Homo sapiens: one gene and its partners. The protein of the gene in region 3 purifies or fractionates together with the protein of the main gene of each other region. This does not show direct contact. Each region holds a gene or a part of one and is shown on either strand. Other genes may lie near its edges.

Region 1 (3,500 bases), on a different chromosome or scaffold from region 3:
CATATAGTTAGTAGGTGATGGATTCCAGGTGTGAACTTGGGTCTTACTGCCTTGAAATCCTTTGTTCCATGATACCATACTGCCTCAGAAGTAGAGTTCTTCATTAATTTCATGTGGTTTGTTAATGGGAGGGTAGGAACTCGAATTTCACACACTTCTCCCAGTCCTGTAATTCCAGTGTTATCCGCCATTCTTAGTAAGAGGTGTGAGGTCTTGGAGTTAGGTAAGAGGGCAGCCCATCTGACCTATTTGTAAAGGTCGATTGTGTCTTTTAAGTGTCCCTTGTTCCTCAAAGGCTGGAAGAAAGAAACGATTTCCTTGTTCCATCTTTTGCTGCCAGGAATGAATAAAGCAGAGGAGTTTGTGCTTCTAATCTACTTCTTCACAAAGGAAAAGATTTGTCATGCTTCTTTGGAAATGGGACTGAATTCTGATGTATTAGCTTTTACATATGAAAATTTGTATTTTAATTCCTTGAGTTTGAATAACAGATAATATGGGAAATCTAATATCATACAGGCTCAGAATATCTGCTCTGTTCAGTATCAAACTTATCCTTTGCAAACTCTCTTCTTCCTGTTGGTTTGTTTTTAATTTTGACCAATAATACCACTGGTTCTTGGCCCCCATGTCCAGCCCAGCTAGTCAGGAAATCCAGTCATTTCCACCTTTTTAGTATTGTATGTCTCATCTTTAGTATATCGTCTGTGCTATAAGTCTTATACCACTATCCTGTTTAAAATTCTTCTGGAAAGCCAAGTAAACTAGAAAGGATAAAGTTGAAACTTGTTAGCATGGCACATGTGGTCCTTCCTGATGTGGCCGTAGCCTGCCTTTTCAGACCCATCTCTTTCTACTTCCTACTCAAGTGAATTTGATTCCTGCTTCAAGCAACAGGAACAGCTCCTTTTTCTTAACCTCTGCATTTACTTTTTCCTGTATCTGGATTTTTCTTTTTCCTGGAAAATTTTTATTTGTTCTTTAGGGTTCAACTCAAGGGAATCACTTGTATGAAACTTTTCCTTTTGTCTTCAGGTAGAGGTAAGCATACATTGCTCTGTAATTCCATCATGCCTTTATTTATTCACACTGTGAGAGATGGTATTGTGCAGGTATCTTCTCAGTTTATCTTTTTGTTTCTGAGACGGAGTCTCACTCTGTCGCCCAGGCTGGAGTGCAGTGGCACGATCTTGGCTCACTGTAATCTCCACCTTCCAGGTTCAAACCATTCTCCTGCCTCAGCCTCCCGAGTAGCTGGGATTACAGGTGTGTGCCACCACGCCCGGCTAATTTTTGTATTTTTAGTCGAGATGGGGTTTCACCATGTTGGCCAGGCTGGTCTTGAACTCCTGACCTCAAGTGATCTACCTGCCTCGGCCTCCCAAAGTTCTGGGATTACAGGTGTGAGCCACTGTGCCTGGCCACTTTCTGAATTTATCTTTAGGCTATTTTATTAACAGTTGATTTCTTGATAACTAGGACTGTTTACTTCCAGGATTAGATGGCATTTTATTCATTTAAACTTGTCAAGCAAGAATAACCTCTTTGTTCTTTTTGTTTCCCTAGTATCGGTTTTATGGAGAACCTGTAATAAAAGCATGTATTGAAAATGGAGCCAGTTGTATCGACATCAGTGGAGAACCTCAGGTATAAAAAATAAAAAGGAAAAACGTAGAATTAACACATAAATTTCGGTTTAATGAAGTGGAAATATTTAGTGTAATTTTGCAGACATATTTAGAAGCCGACAACTCCTTTCTAGCATTCAGATATGGTATTCGTGTGGTATTCCATTGATAGCTCAAAGGAGAGCGCTGATGGTAAGGTCTTAGCTTCAGTTTTCTGAATTTTTTCCCTCCCTACAACATCATTTCTTATAGGTCTGTGCTTATTATAGCTACTTCATGCTTTAAACTGAATCAATTAAAATAGCGGACTGTGCATAATTCTTAGAATCTCAATTCTGTCATGTTTTCATTTTGAATTCCCTTTTAAAAATCAGGTACCTTTAGGCCGGGCACGGTGGCTCACACCTGCACTCCCAGCACTTTGGGAGGCCAAGGCGGGCAGATCATGAGGTCAGGAGATCGAGACCATCCTGGCCAACACGGTGAAACCCCATGTCTACTAAAAATACAAAAAGTGAGCCGGGCATGGTGGCGGGCACCTGTCATCCCAGCTTCTTGGGAGGCTGAGGTGGGAGAATGGGGTGAACCTAGGAGGTGGAGCTTGCAGTGAGCCGAGATCACTCCACTGCACTCCAGCCTGCGCCACAGAGCGAGAGCGAGACTCTGTCTCAAAAAAAAAAAGAAAATTCAGTTACCTTTATAACATTACAGAAAAATAAAGGTAAAATTCACTAGTGTAAAATCAACCTAAACATTTTAAATGTTCACATTTATTGAATGCTTACCATATGCCCAACATTGTGCTAAGTGTTTTATGTAACTTTTTAAAAATATACCTATAGGGTAGTTATCTTCCTCCATTTTTTGTAGATGAGGAAATTAAAGCTTAGGAAGCTTAAGTAACTCACTCAGTAATGCACCTAGTAATGCACCTAGTAATGCACCTAGTAAGTAGAAGAACTAGGTCTTCAATTGAGGTTTGCCTGACCACAGGAAGTTATGTGTTAACAGGCATTAAGCTCTACTACAGCCTTTAAAATGGTAACCTCATGTGTCTCTGTAGTAACTACTGATTATCATCATCAGCATGCCAATATGATATTAATATGCATTTGCAGTTTATCAATTGGTAAAATACTGGAAAATACTGAGACAGTGTAAATTACAAAAATTGATTCAAAAAGGAGGAAACAAATTAAAAAAAAAAAAAAGCCCAGGCGAGGTGGCTCACGCCTGTTACCCCAGCACTTTGGGAGGCTAGGTGGGAGGATGACTTGAGCTGGTGAGTTAACAAATTAGCCAGGAGTTGGTAGCACACACCTGTGGTCCCACCTACTCAGGAGAATGAGACAGGAATATCACTTGAGCCTGGGAGGTCAAGGCTGCAATGAGCTATGATCATGCCACTGCACTCCAGCCTGGGCAACATAGTGAGACCCTGTCTCCAAAAAACAAAAACAAAAAACAATTCCCATGTTATTTTAAATAACCCAGAACATAGAAAATGGTGAAAAGCTTTTAAGTCATCTAGAAACTATCATAAAAGTAGTATCGAACCCCCCCCTTTTTTTTTGATACAGGGTCTCTCTCTCTCACCCAGGCTGGAGTGCAGTGCTACGATCTTGGCTCACTGTAACCTCTGCCACCTGGGTTCAAGCGATTCTCCTGCCTCAACCTCCTGAGTAGCTGGGGGTACAGGTGCACACCACCACACCTGACTAATTTTTGTATTTTTAGTAGTGACAGGGTTTCACCGTGTTGGCCAGCTTGGTCTTGAACTCCTGGCCTCAAGTGATCCACCTGCATCGGCCTCCCAGAATGCTGGGATTACAGGCATGAGCCACCACGCCCAGCCATAATATCAAAACCTAA
Region 2 (3,500 bases), on a different chromosome or scaffold from region 3:
GCCGGAAGACAGGCAGCGAGGCCGACACCCACGCCAAACATCCTCTTTGGAGGGGCTCTCTACTTCTGACAGCCCAGCTCCACATCCTCCCTGCTGCAGGCCAGGCCCGGACTGAGCAGGGAGTGGCTGCAGGGCCTGGAGATGGCCCCAACCACTCCTCACACCAGCCCTGCCCACAGCTGCTCACTCAGCACCCGCAGGGCAGGTGGCCTTTATGCTGGCAGTGGCGGAGCCCCGACTTCTAGCAAAAGCGTCTGCCTGGAGGCCACAGAAGCCAAGTCATGGTGCCAGGGCTACGAGCAGCCATGGGGGTGGGGGAGCCCAGGGAAGGGGAGGGCATAGGGAAACTGAGGCCCGGAAAGCTGGGCTGGCATGGAGCAGGCGGCAGCGGCAACCAGGCTCTCTTTTGTCATCACTGGCGACAGCAGGGATTTGGGTCAGGTGCACAGAAGGACTCAGAAACCGGGGCCCGGGGGACGCCAAGAAGTGGAGCAGCCTCTGCTCATCTGGAGTGTTCCCGAGGCAGCCGGTGTGTGGTGCCAGGGCCCCTCATCACCTGGAGGGCTCTGCCCACCGTGCCTGCTGCACCCACCGCCAGCAACAGGGAGCCTGACAGCCTCAAGGCACGTGAGCAGCAAGAGCCGTGCCCCACACCACGAGGCTCCAGGGCCGGGTGTGGCAGCTGGAGGGAGGCCAGGCCAGAAGCCAGCAGTGGACCATGAGGAGCCTCTCCCTCCAGTCCCGACACGGGGGTCTCATGAGGAGAGACTCCTTCGAATCCCGACACGGGGGTCTCAGAGCAACACTCCGTATCACCTCCCCTCACAGCCAGGGCCTGGGGGTGGCCGAGCACAAGATTTCCTCACAGCCCTCCTCGTAGTGAAGAGGAATGGAAAAGACGCCGGGCGCGGTGGCTCACATCTGTAATCCCTGCACTTTGGGAGGCTGAGGAGAGTGAATCACTTGAGGTCAGGAGTTTGAGACGAACCTGGCCAACATGGTAAAACCCCATTTCTACTAAAAATTAAAAAAAAATTAGCCAGGCATGGTGGTGGGCGCCTGTAATCTCAGCTACTCAGGAGGCTGAGGCAAGAGGATTGTTTGAACCCGGGAGGCAGAGGTTGCAGTCAGCTGAGATCGTGTCACTGCACTCCAGCCTGGGCGACAAGAATGAGACTTTGTCTCAAAAAAAAAAAAAAAAAAGGAATGTTAAAGGTTTGTAAGTGATGGTGGACTGTGGGTCGGGGTGGACCCTGAGCGAGGGCCCCTGGACGGGGGCTGGTGGGGCGGGACACTTACTGCTTTCCTTCTGTGGCCGGCTTAAGAACATACTTGTCAAAATACATTCTCACCAGGCGCTCCCGTTCCTCCTGCCCTGGCAGGTCGAAGTGGACCATCTCATTGATGCGGTCATTGATGGCCCAGTCGAACTGCTCTGGTTGGTTGCTGGCCAGGACCAGCATGAACCTGCGGGGCGGGGATGAGGATGAGGATGCTGGGGCTGCCGGCCGAGCTGCACCAAGGGGAACGGGGCCTCCTCAGCCCCCACAGGGAGAACCTAAAGTGGCGGGAAACACGAGGACACGGGCACAGCCCTGGTCGGCCACCTGCCCCACTGCACCCAGCTGTCCCCCGGCCTGGCTTCCTGGGCCTCTGTTCTCCCTCCATATAGTGCTTTCCCGCTGACCCTCGCCCAGCCTGATAGGCAGTGCCGGGAACACCACTCTCTCCTGCTGCCTGACCCCTGCTGTGCTGGGAGCAGGGATTCGGGACCCGGAGTCCATGTCGAGAAGTCGCCCACACGTGCCAGGAGCAGGACCTCAGGGGCCCGGGTTCACTGGAGGCTCAGCAGGGCCCCAGCCTTGCCTCTCTGGGAAGGACCCGAGTCAGGGCTCCAGGGAGCATCCACCGGCAGCAGCTGACCTGGGAGCCCAACGTGCCTGAGGAGTCAGCCACGGCCGACCAGCAGGACTTGATCCTCCGTGTGACACGTGACTGGGGCTGGAGGGGCCCAGGAGACCAAGAAAACTCAAAATTAGGGGACTTGGGAGGGACTAGGGAGCCTGGCCATGGGGCGGTCACCCTATGGGGGACCTCTGGGCGGCAGCCCACAGAGGCCACACAAAGTCGGGTGGGCCCCAAGCCTGGAGGGTGCACCCTTGGCCAGCATCCGGGCGGGGGACCAAGGTCCCAGGTTCCGCCCCGACACACAGGACCTGCTGGTGTCCAACTTCCCGTGGGAGCAAACTTGTCTCCATCTCCCACCCCAGGGCACACACACCCTCCAAGGGAGACCCAGCAGAGCCTCACACGATGAGACCACCTCCCTTGCAGGCACAGGACCGCAGAAACCTAGGGGCAGAGGGACCTGCAAGCTGGGGCGGCGGCGCACAGGGCCGTGAGGACAGGACTGACCCCAGCTCTGCCCGGGAGGCCCCCGCATGTTCCTCAGTGACACCCCGTGCTGTCCCGAGCTGGGCCGTTCCCAGGGGACATCCGAGGTGGGCATGTTGAGGCCACGGCAGCTGCCCAGCACTGTGAGCCAGGGCCCCTCAGGTCCCTCGGTGGGAACCAAGGGCGACGGCTGCACAGCCCTGCCCGGGGGCCCAGGACCCGAGGGGCTCCCTCACTTGTTGCTGTGCTGGCCCGTGCGGTACAGGAAGGCGTTCAGTGTGGCCCTGAGGTCCTCGCTTATCTTCTCCTGCAGAGAGAAGGTTCCAGCCTTAGGCACCAGGAGCAAAGCCTTGTAAACAGCCACAGCAGAAAGTCCCACAGGCCTCCCTCCTGCAGGGAGCAGGGACATGGCGACACTTTCATGGATCTACTCTCAAAAGCCTGACCAGGGCCAGGGGCGGTGGCTCACGAATGTAACCTGGATTTTGGGAGGCTGAGGCGGGCAGATCACACGAGGTAAGGAGTTTGAGACCATCCTGGCCAACATGGTGAGACCCCGTCTCTACTAAAAATACAAAAATTAGCCAGGCGTGGTGGCGCACCTGTAGTCCCAGCTACGTGGGAGGCTGAGGCACGAGAATCACTGAAACCTGGGAGGCAGAGGTTGTAGTGAGCTGAAATTGCACCGCTGCACTCCAGCGTGGGCAACAGAGTAAAATTCTGCCTTAAAAAAAAAAAAAAGAAAAAGAAAAGAAAGCCTGACCGGGCACGGGGGCTCACATCTGTAATCCCAGCACTTCAGAACGTCAAGGGAGGCAAATCTCTTTAGCTCAGAAGTTTGAGCCCAGTCTGGGCAACGTGAGGAAACTCCATCTCTACTAAAATTACAAAAAAATTAGACAGGTATTCCACTGTGCCCCTGCAGTCCCAGCTACTCAGGCGGCTGAGGCAGGAGGATTGCTTGAGCTCCAGAGGTCGAGGCAACAGTGAGCTGTGATCGCCCCTGCACTCCAGCCTGGGCGACAGAGACCCTGTCTTAGAATGATAATTAAAAGGCTGGGCGTGGTGGCTCACGCCTGTAATCCCAGCACTTTGGGAGGCCAAGG
Region 3 (3,500 bases):
TCTTGCCCACTGGCTTCTGCCAGCCACACATCCCACCTATGCCACCCTCACTGTCATGACTGCTCACCGTGGTGGGAAGGGCAGAAGATACTTGGGACATACTGTGAGGATGTTATTAGCCAAATGTCAGAATTAGCCAAATGCTTTCACATCTTCCTGCAATCTAGTCTTGTGTTTATGAGAATCCTTTCTGAATTCTCTTGACTCACAGTGGACCTTTTTTTCCCTTAGAAATCAAGTGTAGTTTTCCAACCACTGTATTATCTATTTCATAGCTGGGGAAACTGCTGAACCTCAGCAAAATAAATTGGTGACAGAAGCAAGAACTAAAAATGAGATCTCTCTCTGGGCCTCATATGCTATTACAGCATACATTGCCTTGAAAACATTTTTGGTAGCAATAAAAGTAAAATGATTTTGGTGAAAATGAGTCTATACTGGAAAATCAGGTTGAATTCCCTTTGTTTATAAGTGTCCTTAGGGATATGACCAAGACAAATTATTTCCTATACAGTGAGGAAGGAAACAGAAGTCTAACATACACTAATCAAAATGCTATCTTCTTATGTACCAAATTCCAATATTAGAATATTAAGACTTTAATGCCAGTGGCACGACTATCATTTTGGTATTGACTGATTTGTTTAATCAACCAATCTTTATTTGGTGTCTATTATGGGTTACAAACTATGCGATATCCTAAAAATAACTACAAATTAAGGGCTTAATGCTTAGGTATTTACTTTTTAAAAAAATGTTAAGTATTTGCTTTTTTTCTTTTTTAATATCTGTGCAGAAGGAGCACTGGGCTGTGACTCAGGAGATCTGGGTTGTTTTCCGGCGGATACATTATTCCTTTCTCAAGTGCGGACAATGACGTCTGCCCTTGCTCCCCTGGGAAGGCCCCCTGGCAGGGTGAGATGGGTGCTGAAACTGAGTGGCAAGAAAGAGCCAGCCAATTAAGAGCTTTCCAGGGAATGGGAAGAAACAGTCAAAAGGTTGGTCAGACTAGTGAGCCAGGGGAGCAGAGAAAACACTTGGGAATGGAGGCGCAGTGTGGAGGAAGAGCTTCCACAGCAATGTTTAAGAAAGCAAACGAGTAAAGCAGGGACACAGTTTTATCTTTAAAACCTCGAACACTGCTAGGCACACAGTGTATGCTGGATCAGGATTTGCTGAATGAATGACTGAATGAACTGAAGGGCATAACCCAGAATTAATACAATGTCACTGATTTTTTAGAAGAATCATACCGTCTGTTGGGCAGAGAATGGACTGAAGGGAGGTGGACAGGAAGGAAACAAGGGGACTGAGTAGGAGCCGTGCAAGAATTTGGGCAGGAAATGACGGCAGGCTGGCCTGGGGCGGTGGTTGCAGACAGGATGACACTCGATGCGTCGCATACGAAGTGATTAGTGGCAGAAAGGACTCCTGAGGAATTCTTGGGTTTTGTCTTAATCTCCTGGAAGATGGCAGCGCTTCTGACAGATGTAGCCAGTATTGGGCTTGGGTGAGGTACCAAGCAGGGAGGGTTTAGGACTGACCCTGGAGGGCTGTGACTTTAAAAGGTGAGTGTAGAAGAGCCAGCCAGGGGAGTGTGCTGTGGAGGAGCCAGGAATGGAGACGGTCTGAAGTTGAAGGTAGGCGTCAACCATGACACACTCTGCAAGTGGTCAAGGTGAAAAGGAGGTGACCAGATCTGGCAATGTGGAGGTGACCGGTCACTGTGAGGACAGCAGGCCTGGTGGAGCGGTGGGGATGCGATCCCAACTGCAGGAGGCCAAGCAGAGGGTGGAAGGTGGCAAGCTGGAAAGAATAACTCTAAAAAATTCTTTGAAGGAGCTCTGCTATGTATGGGAATAGAGCAATTGGACTGTAGCTAAATGGGATGTGGGATCAAGAGGGTGATTGTTTCGGTGTGTTTTGTTTTTAAAGATGAGGAAATCATGAAATGCTTGCTAGGTGACCTAGTCGGAGAGTGGGGAGGAGGAACGGCTAGTACAGGAGAGAGAGGTAAGAATTAACAGGAACAACAACCTAGTAAAGGTGAGGGGGTTAGACTCAGGGGAGAGGTGGCTCCTCAGCTGGGCAAAGAAATTTAACCCACCAAGTCCGGATGGAAGGCTGCCAATGTGGGCACAGGCACAGGTGGGCTGGCACTTGGTGCAAAGGTGAGAGGGTTCTGGTTTCTTCTGTTTTCAACAGAGTGTGAAGCAAGGGTGTTGCATGAGTAAGGGGAGGGAAGGAGTGTTGGGGGTTTAGAAATAGAAAGCATGGAATCATCATTTACAGAGTGGGAGAATAAAATTGTAGGAAATATAGGATTACTGGGCTGGGTTGAGAGTCCATTTCATATGGTTGCGAGACTTTTGGTGGCATGACACGTAGTCCCATATATGGTGGGGGACAAGGTCAGTGTCATAAGCTTGAGAGAGGAGGCAAAGGAAGAAGGAGATGGTTCTCTCTTTAAGGTAAATATTATTTCTCTCATGTGTTAAATTTAATCACCCACATCATGTTGTTTTTAGTATTTATTGTATTATTTAGTGTTTACTAAGTAGTTCATGTGTCAATGTGATTTTCCAAGGGTACGACCCCCTCATCTGAATGGTACTATCAAGAGAGGCAGAGGGTGAGCCCAGGGGGTAGAGAGACACACAGGGAAGTGTATCCAGAAAACGAGAAAGAAAACTGCCACACCATATCCAAAAAGAGCTGAAGACACCAGCCTGGGGGAGCTGGAAAATATCTCCACTGTCTTTTGTCTTTTTTTTTACCTATTTGCTGCCTTGTGGAGGCAGGCGAGAGAGGCAGCGAGTGGGCCTGAGAGGTGGTCTTCACTGGGCTGGAGGCTGCCTGGATCACTTCAATTGCTTCGGTGTAGCCCATTTGTCTCAGGGCCTCCACCAGCTCTCTGACTGTACCCCCAGAGACCTGTGAGAAAGAAAGGAAGGAGGAGCATGTTCTTGTGTTCGAGTCCCAGTGCAGGCTGTAAGCACTGACAGCCCACCCTTCCCTCTTCCATGCTGCCTCCTCCACTCAGGAGCCAGGAGGAAATGGAAAGGGCAGAGAAGAGCGACTAAGAAAATACAGTCTTCGAATCAAGTTTCCTGTTTCGGCTCAAAGACCACTCAGGAAATCACAGAGAAGTGGTTTGTAGTAAGCAGAGAGAGAGACAGCGAGAGAAGCGCTGAGGCAGTGAAACTCTGCCTACAGTGACGTCTACACAGTCTCCCTCTGTAAGCTGAAGCTCTGAAATCCATGCAGAAACAAAAGCTAACCATGAAATTTTCAACAGAAAACTTCACCCCATGCTTTTCTACATTTTATTTTTAGAAATGAAAAAAAAAAATCCCCGGGTAATGGCTCCACTAGGAGTCACCTCACAGAACATGACTCAATGCCCTGCCATGGGGTAAGGTGTGTTCTTGGGGACAGGAAGCTACACGTTGATTACAGTCGATTGTTTGCTCAGGGCCGTTAAAGTTCTGTGAAAATCC
Region 4 (3,500 bases), on a different chromosome or scaffold from region 3:
CAGGGATATTAATTGGGGAATCCATGGATGGACTCCAGGGATTTACAAACCTTCTGAGATTATATGCAAATTTCTTAGATATGTTGATTTTTCTGAGGTGGGGAACAGGTTTTACCAACTTCTTAGAGGTATACAAGATGATAAAAATGTGAGGAATCACTGGTTTTATAAGTACACAATCCAGAATACTCATTAAATATGGGTATTATAGCATGTAGAATCTAGTCAAAATCCTACTTACTTTTTGAAAGTCTAAATTCTTACTCTCAACCAACAAGTGAGCATCCTAAAATTGAAATTTAAATTAGCCCAGAATTAGAAAACACACGTAAAAATACATCAGCAAACATCAAAAGCAAATTTGTAAGTCTCACCTCATATTACTACTTTTCATCTTTCCAAAATTTTAGACATTCTCTTCATACTTTATTAATCAATGTAATTAACGTTATAAATATATTTATGAATATATAAATAGTATTTATGAACAATCAATGAAAAGCTTCGTTTTAATGGCTGTCATTGAAACAAATTTTTTTTCTGACCAAAAGCATCATATTTAAATAAAATTTTAACATGCTGTTATATGTAAGTTAAGCATTTTATCCAGTTGATTGCTATTTCACACACACCTTAATCAATTCAGGAACATGGTAGCTTTCCAGGAGATTACGAATGCCTCTGTAGATATTTTCAGGAATTTTTACATTCTGTGAGAAGGGAAGGGAGGGGGGAAAAAACCTGAGTTTTAGACAACCAAACTGAAATTTGTCTAACAGAAATTATCTCAGACATAATTTAAGTCTCCAACTCTTGCATGTCATTGAGAAGTGGTCTGGTTGTACTTAAAAGCAGCAATTTCAAATCTAATAGATACATGTCAGGCAGGACAGGCATTATATAGCAAAAAACGAAATGGTACCATCTTCTCCAGCTGATGGAAGTATTGTCTCAAATGCTCCTCCTTGGCCTGTACCTCTGAGTCACTCATGCTGTCAATCAAGTTATAAAGAAAATAGCCAACAGCTTCTGTGGAAAAAAACAAGAGAAAGCATTCCACTAAAATTACCGAGACTGTCATGTTATCAAGATTAATTTATAAGAAATCATTTTGGTGTGAGATGTCACCCTGATGAGAGGCTCTGAAATGGCAACAATGATCACTGAGGCATAGAGATTATGTGGTTTGGGAGCACATATCTAACTGGTGAGTGAAAGGAATATTAATTATTTTCAGACCGAGTGACAGCTTTTCAGTACTGAATCTTACTTCAATCTATTTTTTTTCCACCACTCTGTGACAGAAGTGGTCCTGCCCAAGGCCTTACCCCTTTCCTGTCCAAATCACACGTAATAAGAATAAATAAATGTCTTGTACACATTTCTATACTGTTTTTTTTTTGTGGACAATATTTAGGGAAGCACATAAAATTAGAAAGGATTGTTAAATGTTGAGTAAAGAAAGTTAAACAATTTTAATAAGCAGATACAGTAATCCTGTGGAGAGCTGCCTATTAGCCAATGAAAAACCAAGATTAACAAAGATGTTTTGTAACAACAGTAATTTTCCTTTGCATTCAAGCATAAAATGTATAGGGCCATGTTACAGTAATACCTAGGATAGAAATGTAAACTTTCAAGAGGGGTACCATCTTACAGAAAACTATATAGTCTAGCTTCATTATATGAAAAATGAAAATCATTAAATGTCAAAACAATGTATTTGGGGCAATAAATTACATTTAAGCGGAAATCCACAAGAACCTTCGCTACATTTTATGTTTAAAATTAACTACACCTGCAAAACATTAAAAGCACATAAATACTAAGAATCACTGATTTTTAAGCCTATTTCCATAGATGTTAGAAGAAACATTTCCCCAATATCTGAAAAGAAAAAGCCTCCCAACCCTGTCTTTAGAAAAAATAATTGTAACAAAATCAAACACTTTAGATCTCAAAATGTTGTAATCAATATAAAGATTTATAACCAAATGTTTTCAAATTCCACTTTAAAAAATAAAGTATTTACTGCTGTAATCCTCCTAACCCATCATTACACAGAAAAATGGATTTGTGGATAAGTTACAATCATCGAAATTGAAACGCTACCCGTCGGTCCTCGAGGCTCCTGGCAATAACGTCCATCCTTGTACAACAATTCTGTTATCTGGTAAGACAGAAAATTCGTGCATTGCAGCAAGAGAAGCAAACAAGAACAAACACAATCTGAAATTGAATTCTTGAAATAATAAAACCTCTCCCCAGTAAGGTACTATTCTATTTCACAGTAATTCAAAACCACCCCCACCCGCCAAGGAGATTGTTTTGTTTTTAAATAATAGGTTTGTCTTTTAAAAACAAAAACAAATCCATGTTGAAGGAAAACTGCAATGTTTTGTGAAATGTCACACAGAAAGACTCTAAACTGATTTATAAATTGATATATAAACATCACTCTGAATGAACTGTTATAAATAGAAAAGAGCTTATAGGAATTATTGACCAATATTATTCCTCATTATATTGCTTTTGGTCTTGTTGACACTGAACTGGTTTCCTCATTTTATATTAAGTTTTACTGAAATATAAAGTAAAATATCCTGAACTGCTAAATAACTTACATTTTTTAGATATTTAATAACAACTTCCATTCATCTTAATGAGACTAAAACAAAAGGGGTCTAAAGATTAAAGTGTCTATTCTCATGGATTCTTTTTTTTTTAATTTCCAACTTTTATTTTAAGTTCAGGGGTACATGTGCAGGATGTGCAGGTTTGTTACATCGGTAAACGTGTGCCATGGTGGTCGGCTGCACAGATCATCCCATCACCCAGGTATTAAGCCCAGCATCCATTAGCTATTCTTCCTGATCCTCTCCCTCCTCCCATTGGATTCTTATCAATTGGATTCACAAACACTAAAAGACACACATAACTATTATTTTTCAACATTAACTCTGCCAGCAAAATTTTAGTAGAAAACCAAATATAGGTTTCATGATAAAAATTATTACATAACCTATGGTATTGGCTTGTAACGTTAAAAGCACCTTATGATTTGCAATATTAGAGGGACTTACCTCGCTCCAAAGATTTATATTCATAGACCTGCAGAGGGCAGCAAAGGATCGAAAATAAACCCAGGTTTATTTTCAAGTATATGCATACTTGTAATATGTACAGATCAAAGTATTAAAATTAATAAGTAAATAAATGTTTGCTGTATCAGGATGAATTTTCAGGACAAAGGTAATTTAGAAAGGCTGACACTCACCCACCTCAAATATTCAAAATAGGCCAGGCCTGGTGGCTCACATCTGCAATCCCAGCACTTTGGGAGGCCAAGGCAGGTGGATCACCTGAGGTCAGGAGTTTGAGACCAGCCTGGCCAACATGGTGAAATCCCGTCTCCACTAGAAGTAGAAAAATTAGCCGGGAGTGTTGGTGTATGCCTGTAATCCAGGCTACTCGGGAGGCTGAGGCAGGAGAATTGCCTG
Region 5 (3,500 bases), on a different chromosome or scaffold from region 3:
AGTGAGACCCCCATCTCCACAAAAAATAAAAAAATCAAGCCAGACGTGGTGGCATGCACCTGTAGTCCCAGCTACTCGGGAGACTGAGGTGGGAGGATGTCTTGACCCTAGGACACGAAGGTTACAGTGAGCCAAAAGCATACCACTGCACTCCAGCCTGGGCAACAGAGTGACATCCCGTCCCTCCCCCCACAAAAAAAGGTTAAAATGGTAATTTTTGTGTTAAGTATATGTTACCACAATTTAACAACAACGACAACAACAAAAAACACTACAAGGAACCACTCCAAAGAAAGGCATTCACGGTGTAAATGGCAGACACAAATTTATTCTTCATAAAGGAACAAATTCATCTTACAGGATTTTCTTTTTTTTGAGATGGTGTCTTGCTCTGTCGCCTAGGCTGGAGAGCAGTGGCAAGATCTCGGTACACTGTAACCTCCACCTCCCGGGTTCAAGTGATTCTCATGCCTCAGCCACTCAAGCAGCTGGCATTACAGGCACCTGTCACCACTCCCAGCTAACTTCTGTATTTTCAGTAGAGATGTGTTTTTTTGTTTGTTTGTTTTCCTTGAGACATAGTCTTGTTCTATGGCCCAGGCTGGAGTGGAATGGCGTGATCTTGGCTCACTGCAACCTCCGCCTCCAGGGTTCAAGTGATTCTCCTGCCTCAGCCTCCCGAGTGTCTGGGATTACAGGTGCGCACCACCACGCCTAGCTAATTTGTTTTTGTTTTTTGAGACAGAGTGTCACACTGTCACCCAGGCTGGAGTGCAGTGGTGCGATCTCAGCTCACTGCAAGCTCCGCCTGCCGGTTTCACACCATTCTCCTGCCTCAGCCTCCTGAGTAGCTGGGACTACAGGCACCCGCCATCACGCCTGGCTAATTTTTTTTTTTTTTTTTTTGTATTTTTAGTAGAGACAGGGTTTCACCATGTTAGCCATGATGGTCTCGATCTCCTGACCTCGTGATCCACCCGCCTTGGACTCCCAAAGTGCTGGGATTACAGGTGTGAGCCACCGTGCCCGGCCAATTTTTTGTATTTTTAGTAGAGACGGGGTTTCACCATGTTGGCCAGGCTGGTCTCAAACTCCTGACCTCAAGTGAGTCATGGCCTCCCAAAGTGCTGGGAGTACAGGAGTGAGCCACCACACCCAGCCAAAAAAAATTTTTTTTAATGCTTACCGGGGGGGAAAACGAAGAAAGAAAACGAACAGGAGGAAGGAGTAACACTAATGAATCTTGCAGGGTCTATTTCTCTGCCCTTTCCTCATATGGACATAATACATGCCATCGTCCTCCTCTGTCAAATTATCTCACAGATGAGATCATGTAATTTAAGTGCATTAAAGTCTAATGCCAAAGCCAGTTACTAATTTTAGTTCACTTCCAATACCTTATTTATTTTCTTGAAACCAATTACGGTCTGAAAACTCAATCTAGATAAAATTCTACTCACGTCATGTATGTGTTATAGTCAACAGTAAGAGCTAAATTTCTAGATATAACAAATTAAAATGAACAACATATAAAGCATACATTCTCAGGTTTCATCAATCCAACTGTCAAGCTCTGGCCAGGCGCGGTGGATCACGTCTGTAATCCCAGCACTTTGGGAGGCTGAGATGGGCAGATCACCTGAGGTCAGGGGTTCCAGACCAGCCTGGCCAACATATAGTAAAACCCCTTCTCTACTAAAAAATACAAAAATTAGCTGGGCATGGTGGCGCACGCCTGTAGTCCCAGCTACTTGGGAAGCTAAGACAGGAGAATCACTTGAACCCGGGAGGCAGAGGTGAAGGTTGCAATGAGCTGGGATCCCGCCACTGCACTCCAGCCTGGGTGACAGAGGGAGACTCCATCTCAACAAAACAAAACATAAAAACAATGTAACAGTCACAGGGGAAAATCCCACAGAGGAATAAGTCCTTGCCCTTGCAATTCATATTCTCCAGAGTTCTTGGAGATTAACGTCATAGTCGATATTACTAGTAAAATTTTCGCTTCCTCAATTTCCCAAAAGTCTTTATAATAGTACTTTTATGACTAATATTTCTTGAGTGTCTACTACATGCCAGACAGCAACCTAAGCACTTAAACTCTATCCTTGCAACAGCTCTTAGAAGCGAAACATGTTCTATTATCAACTCCATTTTTAAAAATAGGGGCCAGGCGTGGTGGCTCAGGCCTGTAATCCCAGCCTTTGAGAGGCTGAGGTGGGCGGACCATCTGAGGTCAAGAGTTGGAGACCAGCCTGGCCAACATGGTGAAACCCTGTCTCTGCTAAAAATACAAAAATTAGCCAGGTGTGGTGGCGCATGCCTATAATTCCAGCTACTCGGGAGGCTGAGGCACAAGAATCACTCGAACCCGAGAGGCAGGGGTTGTAGTGAGCTGAGATCATGCCACTGCATTCCAGCCTGGGTAACAGAGCAAGACACTGTCTCAAAAAATAAAAATAAAAATAAAAAATAGGCCGGGCACTGTTGGCTCACACCTGTAATCCCAGCACTTTGGGAGGCCGAGGCGGGTGGATCACCTGAGGTCAGGAGTTCGAGACCAGCCTGACCAAAATGGAGAAACCCCGTCTCTACTAAAAATACAAAATTAGCCAGGCGTGGTGGTGGCACATACCTGTAATCCCAGCTACTCAGGAGGCTGAGGCAGGAAAATCGCTTGAACCCAGTAGGCGGAGATTGCGGTGAGCCAGGCGCGCCACTACACTCCAGCCTGGGCAACAAGAGCAAAACTCTGTCTCAAAAAAAAAAAACAAAAAATAGGGAAACATACAAAGATGAAGTGAAATGCCCAAGGTCGCACAGGCAGGAAACGGCAAGGGCCAGGACTGGAATCCAGGCAGTCAGACTTCAAACTTGTGTCGCTAGCCATAAGCTATAAACCCTCTCTCAATTTATAAATTTGTCTTCCCTCTCATGATATATTTTTTAAGTAACTAGTTCTTTAAAAATCCTACATAGAGTGTTGGCCAGGCGTGGTGGCTCATGCCTGTAATCCCAGCACTTTGGGAGGCTGAGGCAGGTGGATCATTTGAGGTCAGCAGTTTGAGACCAGCCTGGCCAACATGGTGAAACCTGTATCTACTAAAAATACAAAAATTAGCCGGGCATGGTGGCACACACCTGTAATCCCAGCTACTCAGGAGACTGAGGCAGGAGAATCGCTTGAACCTGGGAGGCGAGAGTTGCAGTGAGCCGAGATCGCGCCATTGCACTTTAGCCTGTGCGACAGAGGGAGACTCCTTCTCAAAAAAACAAAAACAGAAACAAGTTACAACCAAAGGAGAATGAGTCAATCCTCCAACAACTCTGACAGTTCCTGGCTATACTGAACTTTCTCTTACTTTCTCAGTAGGCCAAAGTGGTAAAAAGCAAATGAGTACTGCCAGAAACAGGCATGGAATACCAAAACAAGAATTTTACAGAGGAGAAAACAAACAGGAAGACAGCAGGGAGAGTTCCAGAACAAAAGGACAACAGTA
Region 6 (3,500 bases), on a different chromosome or scaffold from region 3:
CAGTGCAGTCTGAAGGAGACTAAGCAAACTGAAAGGAGATCTTCAGGAACTCTGGAGAACCAGCAAAGTCCAGGGAGAATTAACCACAGGTACATAGAAAATTAAGCAAAGGGGGGAAAAAGACAATTATAAACTAGGGAAAACAAACAATTGCAGGAAAGGAAAGCTAGATAATATGCTACATGTTCACCTGTGAGCAGTGATTACATAGCCATAATAATGTAAACATTTGAGTAGTGATCAATCAAAATTAGAACTATTCTGAGAGATAAAGGATAGGAAAGTGGCATGTATGTGGTAGACGCAGGGGAATGAAAGAAGGCGAAATTCTCATCTTCTACAGAGGGGGAAGTCACAAGAAATGCCTAAAGCTAAGAAATGAAGAAACTGCTATACCTCAAGTTATTTAGAGATATGGAAATAAATACCAAAAGAATTAGATAAAATAATTACCTCTAGGGAGTAGAAAGCAAAAAGGAGGGCTGATTTTTTTCTTAAGCTTTGCAAAACTTACTTTATGCTTTGCACATATGTAACTTTGCTTAAAAAACATTACATAAGAAAAAGTCATGTCATGGTACATTTTATATGTATTTTAATCATTTTTTTTTAAAAAGCAGATGGGATAAAGCTAAAAATGCAGTGTAGAAATGAAAATATCAGGAGACTGGAAAATAAGTGCACAGAAAAGGAAGACTGAAAATCACCTCCAACATTTAAAGGGGGCACTGAGAAAGGAGAAGGAAGAGTGTAAGAAGGGTGTATCATGTGCTGTAATAAGTGCCTTAAACTCACAGGAGAAATTCTATTGCCACAGGAAATCAGTTGGCAATTAAGAAATAAAGTTTTTCAACTCCATAATAATTTGCTTTCAAATTGCAAGTTTTAAAAAACAAAAAGAAAAAAACAAAACCTCTTACCTGCTTTTCCAAAAAGTGTGCAACTCTGGTCCTCTGTTCTTTTGGAATGGTAGGAAGGACCTTATCAGCCATGCTAAAGTCCCTCCGCATGACAGCTGTCTGGTATTCCAGGACTGAAACCAGCAGGGAATAGCTAATGATGTTCAATTCTTTATCCCCCAGATAAAGCCTGTTGTCTTTAGGAATGTAGCCTAGGAGATACATCGTCCTATAAAAGAAACAGAAACCAAGTTAGAAATTCAAATCTGCAATTACACAAACACACACCCCGCCAATCTCCCTCTTGCTCAAAACCTTCCCATTTGATTGACACAATTCTGGTTAACAATAGGCAACCTACTAAAACTATAACACTGAAAAATCAGCCTATCATTGCTACAAGCCAGCAACAGATTTTTCTAAACACACTTTAAAATTTAGGACAAATGCAAAATGATACTCAGGTACCTGTCCAAGTGGGCAATGGTGACTATTTCTCCTCCAACATAATAATTTAATCTGTTCACAGAACTTGTGTAAATGAAGCAATCGCCTACCCAAAGCCCTGTTTTCACAATTTCCTGAATCTCACCAAGAACCTGCAGAAAGAAAAATAAAGACAATTACTTTATCCAACATCAGAAATCTCTCAATAAAAAGCTGAATATATCTGAGGGTGATATGGCAGAATAAGGAATGCAAAGTAAAATCCTTCCTATTTCTAGAAAAAAAAAATTTTCCTTGGAATTTTTTTTTTTTTTTGAGATGAAGTCTCTGTTGCCCAGGCTGTAGTACAGTGGCGTAACCTCTGCTCACTGCCAACTTCTACCTCCCGGATTCAAGTGATTCTCCTGCCTCAGCCTCCCAAGTATCTGGGATTACAGGCGCCCGCCACCATGCCTGGCTAATTCTTATGTTTTTCGTAGAGACAGGGTTTCACCATGCTGGCCAGGCTGGTCTTAGACTCCTGACCTCAAGTGATCTGCCCACCTCGGCCTCCCAAAGTGCTGGGATTATAGGTGTGAGCCACTGCACCCCGCTGGAATTTCTTTCTTCATTTAAGAACAGATTCCTACTCAATATAACCCTTAGGCTCAAAACAGAAAAAAAAACAAAACAAAACACAGAACAGATTCCTAGATTAGTATTTGTAATGTGAAATCTCATTGTTGGGTCAAAATCATGATATAAAAGAATACTGATCTAAACTTAGACCCTTCATAACATGACAATGAAATATTAAGTATTTCACAAAATCTAGGACATCTGCACAATAAATGATTTACCATTTGGGAGCTTATTTAAATCACTGACTAAATAGTCTTAGGACCAAAACAACTATAATTTCTTTACTGAAAGATATCAAAGTAAGTCTAAAGAATTCTTAAAATCAAAGTACAAATTTCTTTTAAACATATTTATTTTAAATTTTGATCTATGAGTTACGATTTTAATTTTTCACATTTCACCAGAAATCCTTAAATGCTGTCTCCCTACACCTAATTTATAACGAAATGTTAAAATCAGTAAAGTCTGTTGTAAGAATATAAATCATTTAAAAACAAAGCTGAAAGCGAAAGTTGTGCTGATGCAATTACCTCAAAGGCATCTTCAATGCCATCTTCAGTAACTCCCTCATGTGTTTCCTGTGCAGCCAAGACTTTTTCTGACAGATACTTAAGGATAAAAAATGATTCCTCAGTAGCAATACAGACTAGCTCTCCAGAGTCAGACCAGAAAATCTGCAACACAACAAAATCATAGACAACTGATTTGGATTTCTGAGTGGATATGACAAACTGCACATACTTGGTTTCTTACAACATTTACCTTCTTATATCAAGATGATAAGTATTCACTTAACAATTTTATGTGGCATTATTTGGGAGGGTGGCCAGCTATTATGTGGCTATGCTATTTAGCCTAGCAATGGAAAGACCAAAGGGAGACAGGAAAGGAGAGCTGTCAGTAAACACTGAATGTGCTACACAGAGGACCAGTAGCCTATTCCCTCTTGCTCTAGAACAGTGTTTATCACCTTTTTTATTTTTTTCATTTTCACCCACCCTCCCTAGAAGTCTTTCTGGACATTTTTCTAATCACCTCCCCCAATGAAATTTTAATACCACAGATATACATATATAATGCATATACATATGTATAGCTATGCTTTATTCATAAAGAGTAAGCCCCCAAGTCAATGTTTACACCCACTGAGGATGCGTGCTCTAGAACCAGACCCCAGAAAAGCTGGTTTGTTTCCAAAGATAATCTCCTGACAGTGAAAACTGTCAAAGCAGCGGGCAGTTCTAAAGGTAAACACTTTGTCACTGGAGATGGTCACCTCAAGTTCAAGCAGCTATCATCAAAATGTATGAAAAGGTTTTCTGAACTATGTGGAAGAAGGCATTTCCAAGTCAAGAATTCTCTGACTTCTTGTTCTCAAAGCATGCTTTTTTCCTGTCAAAATGGCACTGCCACTTACCTCCAATTGCTCAGAAAATCAGGATTGTTGTATCCTAATGAGGCCGTAGACAATGTGTATTTCAAAAGTATAAGAAGTTATTTAAATTCTAAGTGCTGTTTTATATTTTAAATGGC
Region 7 (2,582 bases), on a different chromosome or scaffold from region 3:
AGCCCCTCAGGGCTCCCTCTGCCCCTTTACTCCTCTATTATGCCTGAGCTCCTCAGGCAGAGCTGCACAGGACCCTGATATCCCTGAGTGTCACAATCCATTGAAAACAAGCAACAGAATAGCATAGAATGCTACTGCTCATTTAGGGGGCCATGGACTCCATCCCTGACTCTGCTGCATGCAACAGGACTCCTGTCTTCTGGGATCTGAGCTGTTGCTGGAGGGCAGTGGGATGGAGAGAGGTCAAGCAACAGGGAGGCTTGGTGCCTGCCCTGGCTCTGCCACTCCTGTGCCGTGAACTTTAGGGCCACTGCTTTTCCTCTCTGTGAGCATAGCTCCTCTTCCCAGTTTCTTCTTCTCTCCCTCTTCATACCAATGGGCAGTGAGAACCCGTACAATCTCCTCAGTAAAGGTTCTTTGAAAGACAAATGTTCTAGAAATTTCAGGTAATCTGGGGTTCTTCAGGAGCAGATTTTGGAGATACAACAGAACATGGAGAAGCATGTTAAGAAGTTTATTTTATAGACCACAGCAGAAATTCCAGCCAAGTTTCTTTAGAGGAAATCACCTGGGTGTGGCAAACAGACAGGGCTTCCATTATTCTACCTTTAGGATTTCAATAGTATAAAACCGGTTGTTTTTGATGGGGATTACAGCAGCATCATCAGGGCAGATGCCTAATTCCCGAATAACATCAACGACGGCTGCAATTTGCACAGTTCCTGAAAAAGACAGGGACGGAGATCATCTCTCAGACACCCCGGCCATGTCCTGTCTTTTCTACTCATATCAGGCATCTGCCCCCTGGGGTTCAGTTTCCCCAAATCCTTTGCAAATTTGTCTCCTGTATCAACTTTTTGCACTCAATGCCTCTGTCTTAGAACCTGGGTGCTTTCCCCATCTGCTCTCCCCATGCTCTTCCCTCCCTCCCTTCTGTCCTTCTGCCCTGAGGTCCTGGTCCTGCTCGGTTCGCAGCCATGTTTCTGTTTATAGTTTCTCCTCCCTGGTGGCTGGTGGGTAGTTCCCTCCTTGGACAACTTCTGTACTTACTGTTGGTGTAAAAGTCCCAGTAGAAGGTTTTTGGATTGTCGTCACATAGGCAGGCAGTATACTTATAGTTAAATGCACCTTGTAGAGGGATGCTGCTAATGAGGTAAGTTTTAACCTGGTGAGGAGAAGGTGGGAGGGGGAATTCATTGTTATTTTGGGGAATGGGTAAGGGAGGGAAAAATAGGAGAGGGAAAAGCCGGAGGAGAAGAGTGGGGGTGGAGGTGGGCCTAGGGCAAGGGGGAGTCTACTGTTGTAGTATCATTTCAGGAGCCAAAGTCTAGGTCAGAAGGTTTTCCCTTCCAATGCCCTCAAACTCCTGCCTTAGCAGTGTGGAGAAGCTCAGGAGGAGATAGGGATGCAAGTGAATCCACAGGGCAAGGAGAGCTCATCCAGGGCAGCTGTCCAGCTGAGGAGCAGGCTTGCCTTAGTCACCAGCCAGAGGTTTCAGGAATCGACCTGCAATCACGTTTACTCTGAGACCTGGTGAGACAGCAGCCTGGCCACTTGCGTGTAGGAGCCAATGTCAGGCCTTGTTGTCAGAGCTGTGACCAAGCCCCATCTGTGCTCCTCTCTGACTTGGTGACCTTTGGTGATGAGAGGCCTCTCACTCTCACTTTCCTCAGGTATGAGGTGGAAACAATTAACTACCAAACCTGGCTGTTAGATAAGCAAATAACATCTTGAATGTAAATTTCTTTTTAACTTGAGTGCTTTGCAATTCAAGATCCCAGATTATTGTATATATAAATTTCAGTGGAGTCAGAGGATTTTGTCCAGTTAACGTTTAACACAGCAGTTTTATCCTGGGGTCCATAGACCCAGAGGGATCTGTGGATAGCATTCAGTGAGTCTGTGGACTCAGGCAGGGGAAAAATATGCATCTTTATTACTAACCTCTAATTGAAATTCAGCATTCCTTCTGTTATGAATGTCATCAAGGAACCACAGTGCCATTAGCAGTATGTGTGATTTTATCACAAGGAGAAAAGTAGATATGTACATATCATTGCACGGATCCAGAGGTCCGAAATACAGCCTGAATGTACTACCTTGAATGTATGGCAGTTATCAGACTGGCTCATGGTCACGACTGAGGCCCAGTGCCATTCTGCCCACCTCCTGCAGCTTGCTCAGCTACCTGGCAACTCAGCATCAAGTAGCCGTTCAGACCTAAACAGTAAATTCAGGTGTTCTCACCCTTGGAGTTTTACTCAGAATGCCTTGGAGAATCCTGGCGTTTCTTTGGAGAAGACTACCTGTGCCTTGTTTCCCTTTTTTTTTTTTTTCTAAGAGACAGAGTCTCACTCTGTTGCCCAGGCTGGAGTGCAATGGTGCGAACGTGGCTCACTGCAACCTCCGCCTCCCAGGTTCAAGTGATTCTTCTGCCTCAGCCTCCTGAGTAGCTGGGATTACAGGTGCGTGCTACCAGCCCTGGCTAATTTTTGTATTTTTAGTAGAGACAGGGTTTCACCATGTTGGCCAAGCTGGTCTCGAACTCCTGACCTCAGGTGATCTGCCCACTTTGGCCTCCC

The links.
Region 1: the proteins of NFKB1 (region 3) and SCCPDH purify together in Homo sapiens (affinity purification with mass spectrometry; 2 studies listed by BioGRID and IntAct, with this or other methods). This does not show direct contact.
Region 2: the proteins of NFKB1 (region 3) and ATAD3A purify together in Homo sapiens (affinity purification with mass spectrometry; 2 studies listed by BioGRID and IntAct, with this or other methods). This does not show direct contact.
Region 4: the proteins of NFKB1 (region 3) and LRPPRC purify together in Homo sapiens (affinity purification with mass spectrometry; 3 studies listed by BioGRID and IntAct, with this or other methods). This does not show direct contact.
Region 5: the proteins of NFKB1 (region 3) and GTF2I purify together in Homo sapiens (affinity purification with mass spectrometry; 2 studies listed by BioGRID, with this or other methods). This does not show direct contact.
Region 6: the proteins of NFKB1 (region 3) and COPB2 purify together in Homo sapiens (affinity purification with mass spectrometry; 5 studies listed by BioGRID and IntAct, with this or other methods). This does not show direct contact.
Region 7: the proteins of NFKB1 (region 3) and PIP purify together in Homo sapiens (co-immunoprecipitation; 2 studies listed by IntAct, with this or other methods). This does not show direct contact.

What each region holds. Positions count from the first base shown.
Region 1 is NC_000001.11:246,734,409-246,737,908, forward strand, and holds part of SCCPDH (saccharopine dehydrogenase-like oxidoreductase), read left to right. Parts: intron 1-1,566; coding exon 1,567-1,647; intron 1,648-3,500.
Region 2 is NC_000001.11:1,525,662-1,529,161, reverse strand, and holds part of ATAD3A (ATPase family AAA domain-containing protein 3A), read right to left. Parts: intron 2,702-3,500; coding exon 2,631-2,701; intron 2,002-2,630; coding exon of another isoform or gene 1,887-2,001; exon of another isoform or gene 1,480-1,886; intron 1,468-1,479; coding exon 1,300-1,467; intron 1-1,299. UniProt on the Homo sapiens protein: Essential for mitochondrial network organization, mitochondrial metabolism and cell growth at organism and cellular level. May play an important role in mitochondrial protein synthesis. May also participate in mitochondrial DNA replication.
Region 3 is NC_000004.12:102,612,859-102,616,358, reverse strand, and holds part of NFKB1 (nuclear factor NF-kappa-B p105 subunit), read right to left. Parts: intron 2,935-3,500; coding exon 2,778-2,934; intron 2,472-2,777; exon of another isoform or gene 1,388-2,471; intron 1-1,387.
Region 4 is NC_000002.12:43,947,490-43,950,989, forward strand, and holds part of LRPPRC (leucine-rich PPR motif-containing protein, mitochondrial precursor), read right to left. Parts: intron 3,112-3,500; coding exon 3,084-3,111; intron 2,171-3,083; coding exon 2,113-2,170; intron 1,030-2,112; coding exon 923-1,029; intron 711-922; coding exon 633-710; intron 287-632; coding exon 242-286; intron 1-241. UniProt on the Homo sapiens protein: May play a role in RNA metabolism in both nuclei and mitochondria. In the nucleus binds to HNRPA1-associated poly(A) mRNAs and is part of nmRNP complexes at late stages of mRNA maturation which are possibly associated with nuclear mRNA export.
Region 5 is NC_000007.14:74,664,218-74,667,717, reverse strand, and holds part of GTF2I (general transcription factor II-I), read right to left. Parts: intron 1-3,500. UniProt on the Homo sapiens protein: Interacts with the basal transcription machinery by coordinating the formation of a multiprotein complex at the C-FOS promoter, and linking specific signal responsive activator complexes.
Region 6 is NC_000003.12:139,365,648-139,369,147, forward strand, and holds part of COPB2 (coatomer subunit beta'), read right to left. Parts: intron 2,642-3,500; coding exon 2,498-2,641; intron 1,499-2,497; coding exon 1,368-1,498; intron 1,129-1,367; coding exon 921-1,128; intron 1-920. UniProt on the Homo sapiens protein: The coatomer is a cytosolic protein complex that binds to dilysine motifs and reversibly associates with Golgi non-clathrin-coated vesicles, which further mediate biosynthetic protein transport from the ER, via the Golgi up to the trans Golgi network.
Region 7 is NC_000007.14:143,137,658-143,140,239, reverse strand, and holds the end of PIP (prolactin-inducible protein precursor), read right to left. Parts: intron 1,166-2,582; coding exon 1,051-1,165; intron 723-1,050; coding exon 598-722; 3' UTR 501-597; downstream 1-500.